Linked DNA regions of Homo sapiens: all the other regions are linked to region 1. Evidence: fine-mapped expression QTL. A gene starts in region 1. Each other region holds a variant in brackets. All regions are shown on one strand. Distances are from middle to middle.

What was found.
Region 2: its variant is fine-mapped to the expression of PDGFRL in aorta (GTEx, PIP above 0.99).
Region 3: its variant is fine-mapped to the expression of PDGFRL in aorta (GTEx, PIP above 0.99).
Region 4: its variant is fine-mapped to the expression of PDGFRL in fibroblasts (GTEx, PIP above 0.99).

Annotation. Positions count from the first base shown.
Region 1 is chr8:17,574,957-17,580,107 of GRCh38, forward strand. It overlaps PDGFRL (platelet derived growth factor receptor like), which reads left to right and starts at 2,260. Exons shown (of 6, transcript NM_001372073.1): 1 at 2,260-2,351. The coding sequence starts at 2,297. RefSeq lists silencers at 2,466-2,525, 2,616-2,665.
Region 2 is chr8:17,627,189-17,632,339 of GRCh38, forward strand. PDGFRL (platelet derived growth factor receptor like) reads left to right here. Exons shown (of 6, transcript NM_001372073.1): 4 at 1,299-1,592. Among named protein-coding and RNA genes, the nearest start is that of MIR548V, 52 kb to the right of the region's middle. The variant T/C (reference allele first, on the strand shown) is at 2,487.
Region 3 is chr8:17,505,733-17,510,883 of GRCh38, forward strand. The region is part of intron 2 of SLC7A2 (solute carrier family 7 member 2); the gene reads left to right. Among named protein-coding and RNA genes, the nearest start is that of SLC7A2, 11 kb to the left of the region's middle. The variant A/G (reference allele first, on the strand shown) is at 2,174.
Region 4 is chr8:17,603,467-17,608,617 of GRCh38, forward strand. The region is part of intron 2 of PDGFRL (platelet derived growth factor receptor like); the gene reads left to right. It overlaps LOC107986919 (a long non-coding RNA gene), which reads right to left. Exons shown (of 2, transcript XR_001745819.2): 2 at 2,180-2,580. Among named protein-coding and RNA genes, the nearest start is that of PDGFRL, 29 kb to the left of the region's middle. The variant G/C (reference allele first, on the strand shown) is at 3,137.

The DNA.
Region 1 (5,151 bases):
GCAAAGAACCACAGAGTGCGTGGTTTAAAGAACAGAAATGTATTCTCTTATAGTTCTGAATGGCAGAAATCTGAGAGCAAGGTGGCAGAAGAATGGGTATTCTCTGAGGCCTCTCTTCTTTGCTTTTATTTATTTATTTATTATTTATTTATTTTGAGACAGTCTCTCTCTGTCGCCCAGGCTGGAGTGCAGTGGTGCCATCTCAGCTCACTGCAACCTCGCTTCCCAGGCTCAAATGACTCTCTCGCCTCAGCCCCCCAAGAAGAGCCTCTAAGCGGCAAGAGAAAGAGGGACGACTCTCGGCTAAATGTAGCTGAGCCAGGGCAGTGAAGCTTGACAATAATGGCACAAGAGAGGTGGACCTGGCACATGCATAGTCAGCATGGAGGGGATACTGCGACCGAGAGGAGGAATCTAGACCCAACCCCAGGCTCCAACATGGAGTGAGAGTTAAGCAGTCAATTCATGGGGTCAGAATGAAAAGAAATCTCACGGTGGGGCAATTTAGGCAGATTTACTCTCTCCTGTGTGCATGCTCCAAGTCCTTTGCTCAGAATTCTCCCCAGAACCTGACACACCACATTGCAGTGGTCTAAATGCTTGTTCACTCCTTAAAAGTAGCCATGAGAGATGATGTCTCAACCTTCATAGCCGTAATGTTAATCACATAGCAAACTCCTGTTGAAATAATCACCTAGTTCCCTTTCTTAATAAACAAGAGATGCTAAAACCCAGAAGGTTAAGTGAATTCTGAGAGGCATGGAGAGTTTGTGCCAGTGTCAGCATCTGAACTCTGGTCTTTATTCCCAGCCAACTGCTCTCTGCATCGCAAGGCAAGCGAGTGGCAAAGCTCCGGCTAGAGCTGGCAACAGAATATAGAATTCTTGGTTCCTCCTGCAGAAGTGACTGAGAAGCATTAGTTTGTTATAAATGGCAGCACTTCTTTCGTTGGGTGTTGAGGGACAAGTCCCTTTCCTGTTATTTAGAATTGAGCTCCCTTTAATAGCAGTGCCTGGTGCTGAAGATTACAATGAGATGGGCTGCTTCTCACCGGGGGAACACACACAGGCATCTCCCCCGCTAGCAAACTGCTTTGATCATGAGAGTCTGCAAGCTCAGAAACGCAGGATGGCTCTCTGCAGAGGGACTTGTGAAAGCCCGTATCTTCTGCCCCACTGTTACCTGATAGAGTTGTCCAGGTTCTTGGCCTGTTGAACAAAAAATTGAACGAAATGCACGGAGTAACGAAAGAAAGAAGCAAGGAAAAACAAAGCAACAGAAGGGAGGAAGGAAAACGTAGATTTATAGAAGACAATTCACAGAGGGCGCTGCAGCAAGCCACAAGAGCCTGACGCTCCCCAGGGATTTTATAAAGCGAAAAGAACTTGGCAACACCCTTGGGTTCCCTTTAGAGGCCTCCAACTGGTTACACCTTACGAAGGACTGGCCTGCGACCAGTCCGAGGCTGAAGTGGAAACTTCTGCCTTGTTATCAGAGGAGCGAGGATGTGGCCTGTGTGCCGCCTAATCATGCCTAGAACTGTCTGCACCTGCTGATCTTTTGCTTCTGCGAACTGGCTGCACCTGCTGTTCTCCTGCTCATACCCTAGCCCGTGCTTACCCTAATTCCCTGTTCTCCTGCCTCACCACCAGAGGCCCGGGTTGTCTGCACAGTCTCATTTTCCACGTTATTCCTGTAATGAACCCGTCCTCCCACCCCCACCAGCAGTTACAGGGCTGGGTGCGGAGACCAACTCTGGCCAGACACAGAGGAGCAGCAAGAACCCGGGGCAACGGTCCTGTGAGTGAGTGCATGTGGGGGAGAGAAATGGAATGAACAGAAATAATTTAGGAAGCACTTTTTACAGAGCACTCAGGTTCTGCCTGAGGAGGTGGGGCGGGCGCTGGTAACATTTGGACAATCGTGGTTAAAAGTGACCCCATCAGCACCCGCTGATCCTTCTTGAACTTGATAACCTTGGTGAAAACGCCAAGCGTTGGAGAAATTCAAGGAATGGCTGTTGTAATGTACATTTCACGCTTAGCCTTTCCTCCCCGCGCTGGGAAGAAGTGCTGCGCACCGCGGCTCCGCCAGGGGGCAGGAGAAGTCACATTACACAGAGAACTAAAAAAAAAAAAAATTCCCCAACTTTTTCCCCCAAACCTTGTTCCTCCTGAAGAAACCGAATCCTCCCGCTTCGGCGTCCCAGGAGCCCGCCCCTCGCCCGCCGCCTCCCCTGCGTCCCCGCCCCGCGCAGCCGCCGCGCTCCTGCGCTCCGAGGTCCGAGGTTCCCGAGATGAAGGTCTGGCTGCTGCTTGGTCTTCTGCTGGTGCACGAAGCGCTGGAGGATGGTGAGTGACTCTGGGCGCGGGGCCACCTAGCTTGTGCCCTGACTTTAGCCGGGACCCGAAGCCCCCGCCGCCCTCCTGCCAGCTCTTGGTCTAACGTTCGGCCCTCGGTGGCTCAGCCCCCGCGCCACTGCCTGCCCGGTGCACCTGCCCCCTCCTGGTGGGGTCTCCTTTCCTCCCACTCTTTGCCTGCCCGGAGAGCCCTCTAGGGGTGGTGGCAGCTACCCCGACCCTTAGGAGCCCACCAGGACCTCTCCAAGTCCCCATCTCCGGGCGAACCAAGCATCCCCAGCCAGCGCCTGGTCCAGCCCCCAGTGTCAACGTGTCGGTCTGGGAGGTGGGGCGGGAGCCTCGGATCGCTTCCACCTCCCAGCGGCGTGGCTGGGACCTCTGCTGCTGAGAGCGAGTGCCACCTAAGCTCGGCAATCGCTGATTCGGTTGCAGAGTTCCAGGTGACCTCCCCCTCCCCTCGCAGTTCTGGGCGTGTTTTCGTCTACCACCTTTTGCTTGAATCCTGCAAGATCTGCCTAGATCTTCGAACAAAAATGTCAGTGTATGAAACTTCAAAACGAATCAAAAGCCCACGGCTTATTATATTTATCTAATTGGATGGGAAATGGTGAAGAAAATGCATTTTTTTGGTACAGCTTATGGGACCATGACCGCTGCGCGTTTTTGAATGTGTACCTGTCCTGGGTCCACCCTGTCGTGTACACCCGTGACCACAGGGTCTGGTGTTATTTTTCTGTGTGTCTGGGTGTGTGTATTACTGTGGTGTGTATTATATATTATTGTTAGCATTTAAATGTTTTGTTTGCTCTATTCACTCCATGGGTGTTATTTGTACAGTACATGTTTCATCTGGGTGCCTCCTGGTGTCCTCAACCCTCTCTTGAAATTCCTGGGCTACAACACAATTTTTGCTTAGATTTAGTGGAAAAGTAGCTTTTGCTGTTATGCAACTTCATGCTGGAGCCAGCTCGACCTGGCTCACATTTTTATCCACTCGTTCATCCTGACCAGTTCCTTTCTTTCCTAGGAAACTACATTTGCCAAAAAAATACCGCATTGTAGTTTGCAAAATCCAAGATAGTCGTGGTACTTGAAGTTGAGCATGAGGGTCCTTCAGCCTAGAGCTTTGCTTAATAAAACGTAGGCAGAGCTTCTACTGGGAGAGTAACACTTAACTCTGCCCAGAGAGAAGTTGCCATGAGTTCAGTTTGTAAAATGCAATATTAAAATGCTCCTGGCAGGCCCTTGTGTGCAACCGCTGAAAAGGCAGAAATGTAATTTGTAGTATCATTTTTTGAATAGGGCAGGAGATGGCCAGGCAAAATAATTTCAAATCAGCCATTCCTTTGTTTATACCCAACTTGCCAGTCTTAGAGGCTCAGAAATTGACTTCCATTCTGCCTCCTGGATCTCACCCAGCCCATGTGAGTTTATTACAAACATCTGACTAAATTTACCCTTTCTTTAAGTGTAATCCATACAAACAATAAGCATTTATGAGACAATTGGAGAAAGTGGAATACAGACTGAATGTAAGAAATAGTTCATAAATTTTAGGTGATAATAGCACGAAGATTTTGTTTATAAAAGTACACACATCTGGCCGGGCACAGTGGCTCATGCCTGTAATCCCAGCACTTTGGGAGGCCAAGGCAGGTGGATCACAAGGTCAGGAGTTCAAGACCAGCCTGGCCAAGATGGTGAAACCCCGTCTCTACTAAAAATATAAAAATTAGCCGGGCGTGGTGGTGGGCACGTGTAATCCCAGCTACTTGGGAGGGTGAGGCAGAGAACTGCTTGAACCTGGGAGGCAGAGGTTGCAGTGAGCCGAGATCGCACCACTGCACTCCAGCTGGGCGACAAAGTGAGACTCCATCTCAAGAAAATAAAGATAAAAATAAAAGCACACATATCTATAATGTATGGACTATTTATGGATACAATAGTGAACACACAGTGCTTCATTAAGTTATGTAACCGTTTGGCTAAACCTATTAAGAATGGTTTTTGGTTTTGAGTTGTGTTGTGAGTTGTGGCCAGGAGCTACTAAGGAGAGTGGATTACACAGGAGGCCCTTCCAGTGCTGGTCTCAGATTGGCAGGTTGGGAATATCCTGCCTTCAAGGCCATCCCAAAGCACAAATTACAGACACAAGGTCCATGACTCAACTTGTTTCACTGCCTTTTAGTTTTTCTGATCACATCTAAAAGACAGTCTTTATTATTATTTTATTATTATTGTTATTATTATTATTATTATTATTATTATTGAGATGGAGTCTTGCTATGTCACCCAGGTGGAGTGCAGTGGCACAATCTTAGCTCACTGCGACTTCCACTTGTGCTAGCCACCACAACTAGCCAAAGACAGCCTTCTAAGAGGAAAAGACTTCCCTGCAAGTGTGTATGGGGGTGAACATCTGGCCTGTGACCCAATGAAGCTGGCTGCTCCCAATGACAAAATGCTTTAAATTTTTGGAAGTAATGTTCTTTCTCCTCATGAAGATGGGGAGCTGGAAAGGCACATAATACTTCATGGCATGAAACTGAGGGATGAAAACAGGTAATAAATAATCCAAGATTCCACGTTGAGATGTCAATCATAGCACCTGATTTTCAGCATTTATATGGAATACATGCCACCGAGTTTATTAATAGGGTGCTTCTATTTTCACATTGAAAAGTATAAAATCACAAATATTTCCTGACTTTTGATTACCTACATATTTTTATTGAATGTCAGGAGCAAACACTGAAGTGTTAATATTGATTTGTGCAACGAGTTCTGTTGA
Region 2 (5,151 bases), 52 kb after region 1:
TCAAGGTTTTACAACTGCTAAGGGTTTAAAACTTACAATCATAAAATCACATTAGTAAGTGCTTTCCTAAATATTGAGTTTGCTGTAATTTGGATGTAGTTTACAGCTTATTAGCTTGATTTTTTGTGGAAATCTAAAATCCAATGTGCTTGTCTACTTTAAGTAATACGTGTGTCATCTACATGAGTGGATGTAAATACATTTTCAGGGGACATATGTAATCTATAATTATTCAAATGAGCTTTAACACATTTTTTTGTTGATGGAAGCTACCGATTGCAATTTTTTTTTTTTTTGAGACGCAATCTTGCTCTGTTGCCCAGGCTGGAGTGCAGTGGCATGATCTCAGCTCACAGCAACCTCTGCTGCCTCCTGGGTTCAAGCAATTCTCATGCTTCAGCCTCCCATGTAGCTGGGACTACAGGCGCGCACCACCACACTCAGCTAATTTTTTTTTTTTTATTTTTAGTTGAGACGGGGTTTCACCATGTTGCCCAGGCTGGTCTTGAACTCCTGAGCTCAGGAGATCCACCCGCCTCGGCCTCCCAAAGTGCTAGGATTACAGGCATGAGCCACCACGCCTGGCCAGATTGCAAATATATTTTTAAAGCAACTAGTGTGGTCACTTACTTCAAACTATATATTATAGTATAAGAAGTAAGGCTGGGCATGTTAAACTTTAACTTGTTAAAGGTTAATATGTTAAATCTTAATTTAAATCTTGTTCCTTGCTTCCTCATGGTGGTGATCCATGGGCGTCATCTGGGCTTGTACTGATACCTTTTCTGTTTTCTTTCTTTCTTTTTTTTTTTTTTTTTTTTTTGAGACGGAGTCTGGCTCTGTCGCCCAGGCTGGAGTGCAGTGGCGCTATCTCGGCTCACTGCAAGCTCCGCCTCCCGGGTTCACGCCATTTTCCTGCCTCAGCCTCCCGAGTAGCTGGGACTACAGGCGCCCGCCACCATGCCCGGCTCATTTTTTGTTTTTTTTAGTACAGATGGGGTTTCACCGTGTTAGCCAGGATGGTCTCGATCTCCTGACCTCGTGATCTGCCCGCCTCAGCCTCCCAAAGTGCTGGGATTACAGGTGTGAGCTACCGCGCCCAGCCTTCTGTTTTCTTTAAGGAGACAGGAAGTTAAATCATTCTTCCAAAAAATGAAAAGCATTAAAGTAAAAAAAGAAAACCCGGCCTTTCCTACTCCTAAGGACTCAGTATTCAGAGTATGCTGCCAAAATCCTTAAGGGTGCTTTTACTTTGCGTCTCCGGAGTGAATAAGCCTGTGTCTTCCTTCCCTTTGCAGAGAAAGGAGAACTCTTTGTACCTTCTCCCAGCTACTTCGATGTTGTCTACTTGAACCCGGACAGACAGGCTGTGGTTCCTTGTCGGGTGACCGTGCTGTCGGCCAAAGTCACGCTCCACAGGGAATTCCCAGCCAAGGAGATCCCAGCCAATGGAACGGACATTGTTTATGACATGAAGCGGGGCTTTGTGTATCTGCAACCTCATTCCGAGCACCAGGGTGTGGTTTACTGCAGGGCGGAGGCCGGGGGCAGATCTCAGATCTCCGTCAAGTACCAGCTGCTCTATGTGGCGGGTAAGCCTGGCCACCCCTGCCTAGATTCTAGTTAGTCCCCTGGTCAGTTTCAGGTACTGCTGTTCCCTGCCTGCAGATGGAATAAGGAAGCTCCATGAGTGCCTTTTGTTTCATTGTTGTTGGGTTGTTGTTGTTTTTTTTTCTCTTTTTTCTTGAGACAGGGTCCCGTTTTGTTGCCCAGGCTGGAATGCAGTGGCACAACCATTTTCTCACTGCAGCATTAAAGCCCTGGGCTCAAGCAACCCTCCCTCCTTAGCCTCCTGAGTAGCTGGAACCACAGGTATGAGCCACCATGCCCTGCTAACTTTTTTTTTTTTTTTTTTTTGTCTCATAGAGAAGAGGTCTCCCTACCTTGCCTGGGCTGGTCTCGACCTCCTGGGCTTAAACAATCCTTTGATCTTAGCTTCCCAGAGTGCCGAGATTACAAGTGTGAGCCACCATGCTCGGCCCACTTATGCCGTTCTTAAAGGCTTCCCTTCTGCCCCACCACTTCTAGGATGGATGTTCTCCTTCCTTGTTATGACCCTGACCGAAAACCCCTCTTCTCCATTCCAGCCAAATCCTTCCATCGTTCACTCTGGTGCTGCCTCTGTGTTGGATCAGGTCTTCTATGTCCCCAAACTCCTTTAGAGCATCCTCCCAGCCTCTTGGTCTAAACCCAAATCTGCTGTCTCCTAAGGACATCATTCATTCCCACGTCAAGGCTGGCATCCTTCTTGTACCCATTGCCACCTGCCAACCCTCATTCTCTGCCCTTCTGTTGGGAACCTCTGCTCTTTGGGGGCTCTACCAGCATTCTCATTTCCTTTCCTGTCACTCCCATGCATTCATCGAACATTTTGGCACTTGGTTCATGGCCCTGCTTGTCACTCCATTTTTAGGGTGACTTTGATA[T/C]CGACTTGGTACCCACTGGCCAGGTTCATGGACCCCTCATCCGTTCCACCTCAGATATTCCCACCCTCATCACAATGTGAACATGTCAACCACAACCACTGTGACAGCAACCACCGGGGCTGACCCCAGCTCCAGTGACACAGGCTTGTACTTTCCCAGGATTCTGTGTTCAATGACTCCCTCAGCCACAGTCCTCACCTGCACCCACCCTGTTCTTGAGGGCTTTCTGCCCTCCCCACCCATGAGGCTTAGATCCTGGGTCCCACCACATCAGTACTCACTACCCACACCCGGCACGCCCTCCTCTCTGTACTCCCCTCTCCTGTCCAGGAAAGAACCACCCCGGATGAACACAACTAACCTTCTCCCCATGCCTGTACTCAGAGAGTTAAGAGCTGTTGGGACACTCCCATGGGAGGGTAGAGGGCATGGCCATGAATCCCCCATCTCTCGTCTACCCTGCCTGGTGTCCTCTGCATTTTGTCCCGTCTTTCTTCTGTTTTCCCCAATGTGCACAGAACACTTGGAGTTCTCAAATTCCCGCCTCATTCTCTTCCAGTTGGCCTTACTCCCTTACTCTTGACAGAACTGAAACATGATCAGTCTCTCAATTAAAATTGGAACTACTTCTTTCAATGTGGCCATTTTAGTGAGGAGTTTCATTTCATAGCATTTATACATGAAATACTTTTTTCCCTGGTAACTGCCATCCGTTCCATTGTGTTGAATCCCCCTTTTCCTGAGGGTAGGGAGATCTGTTGGTCATGTCGAGTTTCCCTTTGATATCCAACAGGCTTGCTGGGTGAGTAAGACAGCCTCATTCTGGTTTCTAAGACTGTTTGTTTAAAATCTTCAGTCCCAACAATTCATCCAAGCCTGCTTTCTGCTCTTCCTGTCACATGCAGGCTCCATGGTGAGTGCAGCAGCTCTGAGTCGGAGGCCACAGTTCCCTCCGCTCCCCTCCCCTCCCCTCCCCTCCCTGCTGGGGCACCAGGTTAGGGGAAGTAAGTGAGAGAGGTCAGAGGAAGTAAGTGAGAGCTGGCAGTCCCTGGTAATAAATGCTGACCTGGCTTGTTGTCTGTTAGCCTGATGGGAACAGATAGTGACTCCAGTGGTTTGTCACAGGTGATAGGGACTCACCTGTCACAAGCCCCCTTGGTGTCCTAGGCCCTGTCCCATGCAGCCTCGCCTTCTCCTGGACCCTCAGCTGGAGGCTGCCTCTGCTTGTATGAACTTCTTTGCTCTGAGCTGCAGCATGGCTGAAAGAGCCTGGAGTCCTGACATCTCTGTGTCTACCTGATCACCTGACTCCAGAGCACGTGGCCACCAGAACATACAGTGGAGACACAGTCTGGGCCCTCTTTACTTCTCGAAGTCCCCCACCCTGCCATCTTGTCCAGAGCTCTTTTGCCCCGGGCTGATGGCATAGGGGCAGGCTAGGAGCAGTTGCGTTGCAGAACGCTGCAACACCCCCCACATTCCTTGGCAAGCAGTTCTCTGAGGCCGCTCCCTCGCCTTTCTGGAGTGAAGCACCCTCTTGCCAGCCTTGCAAGGGAGGAGGGGAAATAGTTTCTCTTCTGGCACTGTAGTCCCTCAAAGGTGACTTTAGTCTCTCCGAGAACTCTCACCTTGACCAGGGGAGAGTGGTACGTGTGGGCAGAGTCCATCCCCTGCAGTGGAGCTTCTCAGCCACCCTGTCGGGGGGATCAGTAGCCCCGAGAGTGAGCTGCTCTCTGAAGTTAGAATTTGGGTTCTGTCATGCCTCGTGTTCTCAGCCATGGTGCTTATTCAGCAGGCCATGCCCCTTACACCCTGTTACCAAATCCCTCTCACAGCCCTGCTCCACCTCCCCCAGTGTTTTGCTGAGCCCACCACTCTTCCCCACTAGAACCAAGTCCCTGAATGAAAGAGCTCTCCATGTCCCTCTCCACTTCCTTTCCTCCCACACACTCCTTTGCCCACTCCCATCTGGCCTTCTCCCTTGACTTCCACCAAAACGGCTATTGCCAAGGTACTCGGGGACCCCCATGCCATTAAAGTCTGTCCCTGTCCTCCTGGATTCCACCTCACCTGCAGGGAACAGCCTCTGCCCTGGCTCCATTTTTCCCAGCTTCCCCCACCTCCCCCACAGCTTTCTCACTCTTCTTGGTCAGCTCTTAGCCTTCTATCAACTTTGAAATGCTGGTGCTCCCCCAGGCACCCTTCTTTCCCACTCCTTGTTCTGTCCCTGGGCCAGCTTCACATCTGTACACTGGTAACTCCCAAGTGAACGGAAGTGGCCGGATCTAGGAGCATCAGGTCCACGTGTCCGCCGTCCACCTCAGGTGTGCAATGAGATGCTTCGGGGTCCTCCATCCTCCGCGTGCCATCCCTGGCCTCAGTGCCATCCTCCCTGGACCTGGTTCTTCCTCCTCCTCTGCCTTGGTGATGGCACTACCTTCACCCACGGGTCAGGCCTGCGGCTGGAAGCCAAGCTAACCTCCCTCCTCCTCCCGATCCTTTCTACTTTTTTCATTAAATCACTTTCAAATCCTACTGTTTCTCTCCATCCTCACTGCAAAAAAGGGATCAAGCTAGCATTGTCTCTGCCCTAGACTTATGTGAATACCTTCTCATTTCCCCTATGTCCACCTTTTCTTTCTCCACTCCATTTTCCACACTGTAG
Region 3 (5,151 bases), 69 kb before region 1:
CTTTAGTGTGACATTTGAAATCTAATCTTGCCAGTTCAATGTCAGTCTGATACGGATATTCTTGTAGAAATCTCTGAGATTTAATAAACTTACAGTTGAGTAGAACTGAATCATACTAAAGACCAGTGGAAGCATCCTTGCAGGGCCTTATCAGTTTTTACAATGTAAAATAACTAACCCATAGCGTTTCCTTTTACAGTTAATGTTTGTTTAATAACATGCTTAAGGTATAATATTGAGACGAAGTGAGGAATTTTAATGCTGATTTAGCTACTGAAAAATTATCTCTTGCAACACTTGCTTTACTTGTAGTTAGGATTTGTAATGTTTTATTGCAAAAGAAAGCCCTCTTTTAAATGCGTTGCATTTGTGGCATAGTGGTTGTGTAGGTGGAGTAGGACTTGTGTCTGTACAATTCATCAAGAACATAGCACAGAGCACTTTTACATGCCATTCAGAGACAATAGTGGGTGTTGATAAAATTTGTAGTACTAGAGCTGTGAAAACAAGTGCTGGGCTGGTGCCTGCTTTAAACTCTCTTGAAACTTAGCAGAATTTCATTTTTATAACAAAAATCACTATTTTCTTTAAAGAGGATTGATAACATGAATAAGTCTAGGTGTCCTGGAAATTCATTTGGTTATATCACTATAAAAATGGTGAGACACTGTTGTGGTAGTTGGTTTTGTATTTTAAAGCGTAAACTTCACAGTACATTTAAAACTGTCCTGTGCGAAATTTCAGAGGCTTTGGACACGTTCCTTTCTAGCCTCCCTCGCCGTGGACAGTTATCAAGTTTCTGGCACGGTGCTAGACGAATATGGAAGAGAAGTAAGTGCCTCAGAATGACATTTTAGAACGCTCTTTTTATAGGTTAAGAGACTGAGATCTTGAGAGGTGTAACTCATCTGAGGTTAGACAGCTAGGGATACAGTGAAGACTGGAGTCCAAGCATATTGAAAAGTCAGACCATTCTGTTTTTGTGAAAACAAATAATAATTACTAGAATGCACTACTTCTGTGGAATTTTTTTTTTTGAGACAGACTCTTGCTTTGTTGCCTGTCTGGAGTGCAGTGGCGCAATCTCGGCTCATGTGAGGTTAGACAGCTAGGGGTAGAGTGAAGACTAGAGTCCAAGCATGTTGAAAAATCAGACCATTCTGTTTTTGTGAAAACAAATAATAATTACTAGAATGCACTACTTATTTGTGGAATTTTTTTTTTTTTTTTTGAGGCAGACTCTCACTCTGTTGCCAGGCTGGAGTGCAATGGTGCAATCTTGGCTCACTGCAACCTCCACCTCCCAGGTTCAAGCGATTCCCCTGCCTCAGCCTCCCAGGTAGCTGGGACCATAGGCGGGCACCACCATGCCTGGCTAATTTTTTTTGTATTTTAGTAGAGATGGGGTTTTACTATGTTGGCCAGGATGGTCTTGATCTGCTGACCTTGTGATCCACCCGCTTCGGCCCCACAAAGTGCTGCGATTACAGGCGTGAGCCACTGTGTCTGGCCTATGTGGAATTTTTAAATTGGGGATCAGTACAATTACAACTTAACATTTTTAGATTTTAATGGTTAACTATAATTTATTATATAATTTTAAAAAGCTGGAAACTATTTAAATGTGTGTGTGTGTGTGCATTATTATTATTTTTGTGTGTGTGGAGACGGGGGTCTCACTGTGTTGCCCAGGCTGGTTTTGAACTCCTGGCCTCAAATGATCTTCTCGCCTTGGCCTCCCAAAGTGCAGGAATTATAGGCATAAGCCACTGTACCTGGCCTTTTTAAATTTTTTGAAGAAAGGATTTTGAACATCCACAATGCAAAGAGATGAAAAATATTTGAAGTGATGGATATGCAAATTACCCTTATTTGATCATTGCTTATAGTATATACATATTGAAATATTCTGTGTCCTATAAATATGTACAATTATTACATGTCAGTGAAAAAAGAAAAAATACAAATGAGTAAATTTTAAAAACTCTGTTAATTTAACAATAACATGTAATAGAAATATGCCCTAAAGATTTCATGATGAGCTATTAAATTATTTTTCAAAGAGATATTTGAAGCTGATGAAGTGCATTTAGAAATAAGTGTTACAGGAAGAGTGGAAAAGGAAGTTTTTAGATTTTGAAATTTCTTGGAAATTAATATATTTGGATAAGCT[A/G]TTTTCGTAGAGTGACATTCTTATGATATGAACAAGTTTATTAAATGGCATACTTTTACCAGAAAATGGGAAAATATAGTCTTAATCTAAAAATAAAAAGACTTTTAAAGTCATTAGGGTTTCAACCTCATAAATGGTGCTTTTAAACAAGTATGTTCTGTTTGGAGTGCTATTGTGCTCTCTTTTTTTTTAAAAAAAAAAGCTATTTGAATTTTTTACTTTTTCTGATTATCATAGATAACAGATGGTTTGCACTTAGTTCAGTGAACCAAACAAAAAAAGAGCAGACTTGGCAGAAAATTCCTGTTGATAGTGCATTTTTTCTCTACTGAAATGGATCACATGAACTTTTTGAATAATGAATAACATATTTACATTATTCTGGTCTTTTTTGCTACAGAGTACAAGAGAAATGTGAAGGACAAACAACCTTATTGTTACTCTTATAAATTATGTAAAATATTTTTGTATTCTTCCTGCATTGCTAACTCTAGGTATTGTTGGATGCCCTGTCTACTTTTAAAAATGATCAATTGAGCCGGGCACAGTGGCTCATGCCTGTAATCCCAGCACTTTGGGAGGCCAAGGCAGGCAGATCACCTGAGATCAGGAGTTCAAGACCAGCCTGGCCAACATGGCGAAACCACATCTCTACTAAAAATACAAAAATTAGCTGGGTGTGGTGGTGGGCACCTGTAATCCTATCTGCTCAGGAGGCTGCGGTATGAGAATCATTTGAACCTGGGAGATGGAGGTTACAGTGAGGCGAGACCACTCCAGCCTGCGAGACAGAGCAAGACTCTGTCTCAAAAAAAATAAAAATAAAAATAAACAAATAATAAAAAAGATAAATTGGTCAAGTGGCTGAAGATTGAAAGCCTGATTTATCTCACCGAACCACTAGTAATGGTAGTATGTTAATATATTAGTTTTTATAAGGATTTTAAAAACCCTGAGGACCCACATTATTTCTCTCAGTTTTTGAAGTATTTAGTAGAGTTGAATTTTTATTTTTAATTTTGTTTTACTTTCAGTTGATTGATCGTTGCCGCCTTTTGGTGGTGAGCTCCTGTGGCGTGTGTTGGTGAAAGTTGGAGATGCTGGTGGTGTAAGGCAGGCGAATGATATTACTAAAGTGGAGGCAGCTCTAGGAGTGGGGACTGTAGACATCAGCTGTAGTTGTTGGTACCAACTGTAATTGAAAGTTCGAGTCATCTGTTTAAAGAATGGGCCTTTCCTTCATCATGTCATTTTAATGCATTGCATATTGGACCAGAGAAATCAGTAAAGTTGAACTATATAATCTGAAATCTAACTTTGTATCCATGAATCAGAATTCAGGCTATTTTCAAGAATTGGAAGAAAAGTGCTCATTTTATTGAACTAAGTATAATTTCCTTATTCTTCTTCTTCTTCTTTTGAGACAGAGTTTCGCTCTGTCGCCCGTTGGAGTGCAGTGGTGTGATCTTGGCTCATTGCAACCTCCGCCTCCCTGGTTCAAGAGATTCTTCTGCCTCACCCTCCCAAGTAGCTGGGTTTACAGGTGCCCACCACCACACCTGGCTAATTTTTGTATTTTTAGTAGAGACAGGGTTTCATCGTGATGGCTAGGCTGGTCCCGAACTCCTGACCTCAAGTAATCCACCCGCCTTGGCCTCCCAAAGTGCTGGGAAGACAGGCGGGAGCCACCACGCCCAACAATTTCTTTATTATTATTAAGTACAATAAAAAGAGAAACAAGAGTGCAATCATTTTTATTTTTATTTTTTCGCCTCCAACAAAGTGATGTATGCAGAACAATGTTTTATGGTAGAGAAAAGTAATCTTTTTCCAGTGTTCATTTCACTAAAACAGCTACTGAAATTATTTGCTGAATGGAATCTTCCACGTCTCTAAAGACATGATATGCAGTATGAATAGCTTTAGTAAATCATGAAATTCTGGGTTCGGAAGAAGCCTGTGTGTTTCATTTCAAGCAGAACTGTATCTACCTATTTTTCATTGGTATGTGCATTATGTAAGAGTGAATTGAAGCCCGGTACAGTGGCTCACGCCTGTAACCCCAGCACTTTGGGAGGCCAAGGCAGGTGGATCACTTGAGATCAGGAGTTTGAGACCAGCCTGAACAACATGATGAAACCACGTCTCTACTAAACGTACGAAAATTAGCCGGGCGTGATAGCAGGCGACTGTAATCCCAGCTACTTGGGGGGCCAAGGCAGGAGCATCGCTTGAACCTGGGAGGCAGAGGTTGCAGTGAGCCAAGATAGCACCGCTGCACTCCAGCCTGGGTGACAGAGCAAGACTCTGTCTCAAAATAAACAAATAATAATAATAATAATAATAATAAAAGAGTGAGCTGGCCTTTTTTTGTGTACGAAAGTATCTGCAGAAACGTCAAAATTGCCTAACTGATAACATAAATGACAATACTTATGTATTTAAAAACAGTAAAATGTTGAGAATATCTATAACTAGGAAAAAAAGCTGTAGAATTGGCACACTGTCGTCCACAATGGCTGAACTAATTTACATTCCCACCAACAGTGTAAAAGCGTTCCTATTTCTCCACAGCCTTGCCAGCATCTATTGTTTCTTGACTTGTTAATAGTCACCATTCTGACTGGTGTGATATGGTATCTCATTGTGGTTTTGATTTGCATTTCTCTAATGATCAGTGATGTTGAGCTTTTTATCATATGTTTGTTGGCTGCATGAATGTCTTCCTTTGATAAGTGTCTGTTCATATCTTTTGCCCGCTTTTTGATGGAAGACAGTGTGGCCATTCCTCAAGGATCTAGAGCCAGAAATGAAATACCATTTGGCCCAGCAGTCCCATCATGGGGTATATACCCAAAGGAATAGAAATCATTCTACTAGGAAAACACATCCAAACCCATGTTTATTGCAGCACTGTTTACAATAGCAAAGACATGGAACCAACCCAATGCTCATCAGTGAGAGACTGTATAAAGAAA
Region 4 (5,151 bases), 29 kb after region 1:
TGAAATTGATTCAGGTTTTACCTCCAGACTCAGTCCATCCCAGATCCCATAAACATCTCCTGTCTTTGAGATCGGAAATAGCAAAGGTACTGTTTCTGACAACAGTAGTTATCATTTGTCGAACACTCTGTTTCTTGACTCCTCTGCCCTGTTCCTTTCTTCCCACTGTTTTATCATAAGCATCTACTATGTTTGTGGTCTCTGCTAGGCAGATGATGGAGATAAGATGGTGAGCAAAATAGATAAAATCTCTATATCCCATAGATCTTTTAATCTTAGGGAAGACAATTAAATAAGCAATTTTAATAAAATATTAAAGTCTGTTAGCAAGTGCCTTGCTAACCGAAGTATGCTGTCAAGGAGGAGGAAACTCAAGCTCATATTTGAAAGTTCCCTGGGTAAGGAAGGGCATAGCAAGATATAAGGAAATTCCAGAAAGAGAGAAGTGTTTGAAGGAAGTACCTAGAAGTGGGAAAGAGTATAAAACTTGGAGCATGAAGGGCAGGTGGGTAAGATGTGGCGGTCAGAGGCGAGGGAGTGGGAAGGAGGTTAGGAGGAGAGATGATGATGGGAGGTGAGGCAGACCATGGAGGGCCTTGTTGGCCACATTAAGAAATTTAGAGTGCTGGAGAGGATGTGGAGTAATAGGAACACTTTTACACTGTTGGTGGGACTGTAAACTAGTTCAACCATTGTGGAAGTCAGTGTGGCGATTCCTCAGGGATCTAGAACTAGAAATACCATTTGACCCAGCCATCCCATTACTGGGTATATACCCAAAGAGTTATAAATCATGCTGCTATAAAGACACATGCACACGTATGTTTATAGCGGCACTATTCACAATAGCAAAGACTTGGAACCAACCTAAATATCCAACAGCGATAGACTGGATTAAGAAAATGTGGCACATATACACCATGGAATACTATGCAGCCATGAAAAATGATGAGTTCATGTCCTTTGTAGGGACATGGATGAAGCTGGAAACCATCATTCTCAGCAAACTGTCGTAAGGACAAAAAACCAAACACTGCATGTTCTCACTCATAGGTAGGAATTGAACAACGAGAATGCATGGACACAGGAAGGGGAACTTCACATACCGGGGACTGTTGTGGGGTGGGGGGATGGGAGAGGGATAGCATTAGGAGATATACCTAATGCTAAATGACGAGTTAATGGGTGCAGCATACCAGCATGGCACATGTATACATATGTAACAAACCTGCACGTCATGCACATGTACTCTAAAACTTAAAGTATAATAATAATAAAATTTAAAAAAAATTTAGAGCAAAATTTAGGGCAATTATGAGTCGAGGATTTAAAGCCTTTCTAAATATGTATACAAAGAAAATGCATGGCTGGGCATGGTGGCTCACGCCTGTAATTCCAGCCCTTTGGGAGGCTGAGGCGGGTGAATCACTTGAGCTCAGGAGTTTGAGACCAGCTTGGGCAACATGGCAAGACCCCATCTCTACGAAAAAAGATACACAAATTAGCAGAGCATGGTGGCGTGTGCCTATAGTCGTAGCTACCTGGGAGGCTGAGGTGGGAGGATTGCTTGACTCTGGGAGGTGGAGGCTGCAGTGAGCTGAGATCATGCCACTGCGCTCCAGCTTGGGCAACAGAGTGAGACTCTGTCCCAGAAAGAATGAAAGAAGGGAGAGAGAGAGACAGGGAGAGGGAAGGAAGGAGGGAGAGAGACTGAAAGAAGATGCTGAGTAATATAAACCGCATTGTGAGGGTTAGCCGTCCTCATTGCCTTCAGAAGAAAGACAATGTCTCTTCCTGTGTCAGTTGCCTCCATCCTTCCTCCCCATGCCCCATACCCATTTCACTCCAACTGGGGTCTTTAGATGTGTTCTTGGACCTCATGCTTTTTTGCAATAATTTTTTAAATTTTTTCTTGCATTTTGTTGATAATATTAAAAACTTTGTGTAAGAATATTCTGGATTATCTGAATAACCCCTGCTGGGAGATCAACGTGACCCATTTGCATCTTCTCTGCACACATTTTGTTTCTTGAATCTCATCATAACACACTTCCAGGGTGTAAAGCCAGAGAATTCTTGGCACCGCGCTGAGCCAGGGAAGAAAATGAGATGAAACGGAGAATAAGTGGGTCTGGACGAAGGCTTAAATATAACCAATCAATGCTGGTAGGAACAAGGAGACGTTGGAGATTTCAGCTATGTTGTCAGCAACATCACAGCAGTAAAAACAAGATAGGCTGATGTGGTAATAAGCCCTGGTCCTGCTCCCTAGGAAATAAGAGTCCAGGCATTGTCTTTCAGGATGTTTTTCTGGTATCTGGTCGGATGTTAGCATTTTTTCAGTCAAAAACTGGGAGTTGGGAGGAGTGCGTGGGGCACAGGAGATCTCTTTGATGGCTGGCTCCTCGGAAAACAATAAATAGCTTTTAGAGAGAAGGGAGGGCATCGGGCTTTTCATTTGGCCACGGTTGGCAACAGCTTACTCCACCCACAGACAACACAAAGGGAGGGTGGGCCGATGGAGCAGAGAGTGGGCTCCCAGCCAGGCTCATCATGTCATCCAGCATCTGGAGGGAGAGTCTGGAAGACATTTTAAAAGAAAAGGAGAAATATCTTAAGTGGTTATCAACAGAAGAATCCCACCATTGAGAAAGAATCTGCACAGACTTTGGTAAATGTTGTGGAGAGTACTCTGGTGTTATGCTGAGTAAGGTATTTTTTTTCAAATAATTTATATTTTTCGAAAATACACAGAACGTACAATTTACCATATTAACCATTTTTAAGGAGATAGTTCAGTACACTTAAGTGCATTCATATCATTATGTGAGTGTCTTTTGTATGCGAACTCACTTTCCTCCAAAGCTCGTTTTATTTTATTTTCTGAGCAGAACAAATGAAGATGAGGAGGCTCTCACTTTGCCTTCATTCTTATCTGGAGCATGGGTCCAATTGGGGTCTAATTTGCAGTGGCCAGTCAAAAGGAAACGCCACCCCCAAACTCTAATACTTGCCTTCAAATGGTCTTCCACCCCAGAAATGACAAATAGGTGACCTAACCAATGCTGAAGGTAGAGCGTTCTCTTTCCAGACTCACTGGCACCAGCTGCAGGCCCTCCGTATTTCCCCAGAGATG[G/C]GTGGGTGGAGGCTGCAGGATACAAGACTTCCCCCAGTGTACTCAATGTTCTGAGAGCGTTCAGCTTGCAGAAAAACACAGCTATGTTCCGTTCAGGACAAGGGTGGGGGGCAGGTAATAATAGAACGAGGCTCATTGTGCTGTTCTCAGGATAGAATGAGGTCATGCGTGTAAACCTCTTGGCACACATAGTAAGCCACCTAAATATCGGTGAGCTATTTCTGTTCACCATACTGTACCCAAAGGAGGTAAATCATAAGAAACAGCCAGTTTTTCGTTTTTTGTTTTTTTGTTTTTTTTTTTTTTTTTTTGAGACGGAGTCTTGCTCTGTCACCCAGGCTGGAGTGCAGTGGTGCAATCTGGGCTCACTGCAACCTCCACCTCCCAGGTTCAAGCAATTCTCCTGCCTCAGGCTCCTGAGTAGCTGGGATTACAGGTGCATGCCACCATGCCCTGCTAATTTTTGTATTTTGATTGGAAATGGGGTTTCCTCATGTTGGCCAGGCTGGTCTCAAACTCCTGACCTCAAGTGATCCACCTGCCTTGGCCTGCGAGTTTCGTTTTAAGAAACGTTTTAGACGTGTGTCTCAATCCCCTACAAACTCTTTGTGTCCATAGCACTGTGGAGGGCTCACTGATGCTCATACTAATGGTCCCAAGGTTCTCTAGATCACCCATTGCTCGTCGATCTAGTCATTAGAGTAGGGGAAATTGGTTGAAGCACGTTCTATAGTTTTGGGGAAAACGTCTTCTGCTAACTCTTACTTAAAAATAATGTTTCTACCTACACCAAATATGTATTTAAAAAAACAACAAAAAAAGTTTCTTTCAACAAAACATTTCATTTCTTGAGCATTTCTGGTAAGTCTAGGATTGATTATCCCAGATGTGTTGCACAGAATTAAAATACAGTAAGAAAATGACAATACAGTCAAGCTAGTGCGTTAAACCAAAGACACTGTAGGAATATCACCAACTATGTTAGATGATAATTTTGGGGCATCTTGCAAGATGGAGCATTGTTTATAGTACCAGTGATTGCATGTATTTTATGAGTGAAATGTTGCTTTAACAAGTAAGTATACATGTGGGTGACGTCTGGGATTTAATGCTCAAATGTAAACACTGGTGTGTTAGTAGCATGATTTTTGGCCAAGTATTTGAATATAGAAGATGTAAATAAAACAGCTTTGAAAGATATGTCAAAGGAGGGAGCAAGAAAAGAGGAATAAAGGATAAGATGTAAAATGGGAAATTTTATGTCCACTAGTGTATAATTGTGTAGAATGGCACATTTATAAAAAAGCAAAACGAAGATGTCAGAGGTTTGCCTCCAGTGTCCGGGCTTGGCTGCCTTGGCGGCTCCGTCCCACCCACACAGCCGGCTGCAGGTGGGCAGCTGCTAAGTTGCTGCCCTGGGGAGTCCGCCCAGAACCTTCTCTTGTCACTTCCCGTCCTGCATTCCCAACTTGTCCACTCTGTCCTGGGGCCTCAGGGGCCTGTCTCCTGCCTCGCTTGGTGCCTTCCTGCTCAAAGACTTTGCTTGGATTGCCTTTGGGAGTTCATCCTGATTTGCCCCTGGTCTCTGCCTTTCAGACCACATCCTACTGTCCAAAGCACTCCTCTCTCTCCATCCCACTGCCTAGATCCCAGATGAGATCTGGTGTCTCAGTTACATTGGAGCAGAGGTCAGAAAGCACCAGCTCACCCTTCCCTGTAACAGCACTGTTGTTTGTGAACTTGACTTCATAGCTGGGAAAAGGTAGGGGGTTGGGGGCCCTGTGAGTCAACCAACATTGATACAAGTGAATCAATGTTGAACGTGCCCTCATGCGTTTATTTACCCAGGTGGCTCGTGCATTGGCACAATATATCACATCAGCTGGTAGGCATCCTGGGGAAGGAGGCAGAGGGAGGCACTGTCCCATACAAGAGCCGGAGGGGTGACCAGAGCGAGTGTGTCACAGCCTTCAGTTCAGTGTTGGTCTGCTGAGGAGAATGCACGCTAAATAGCA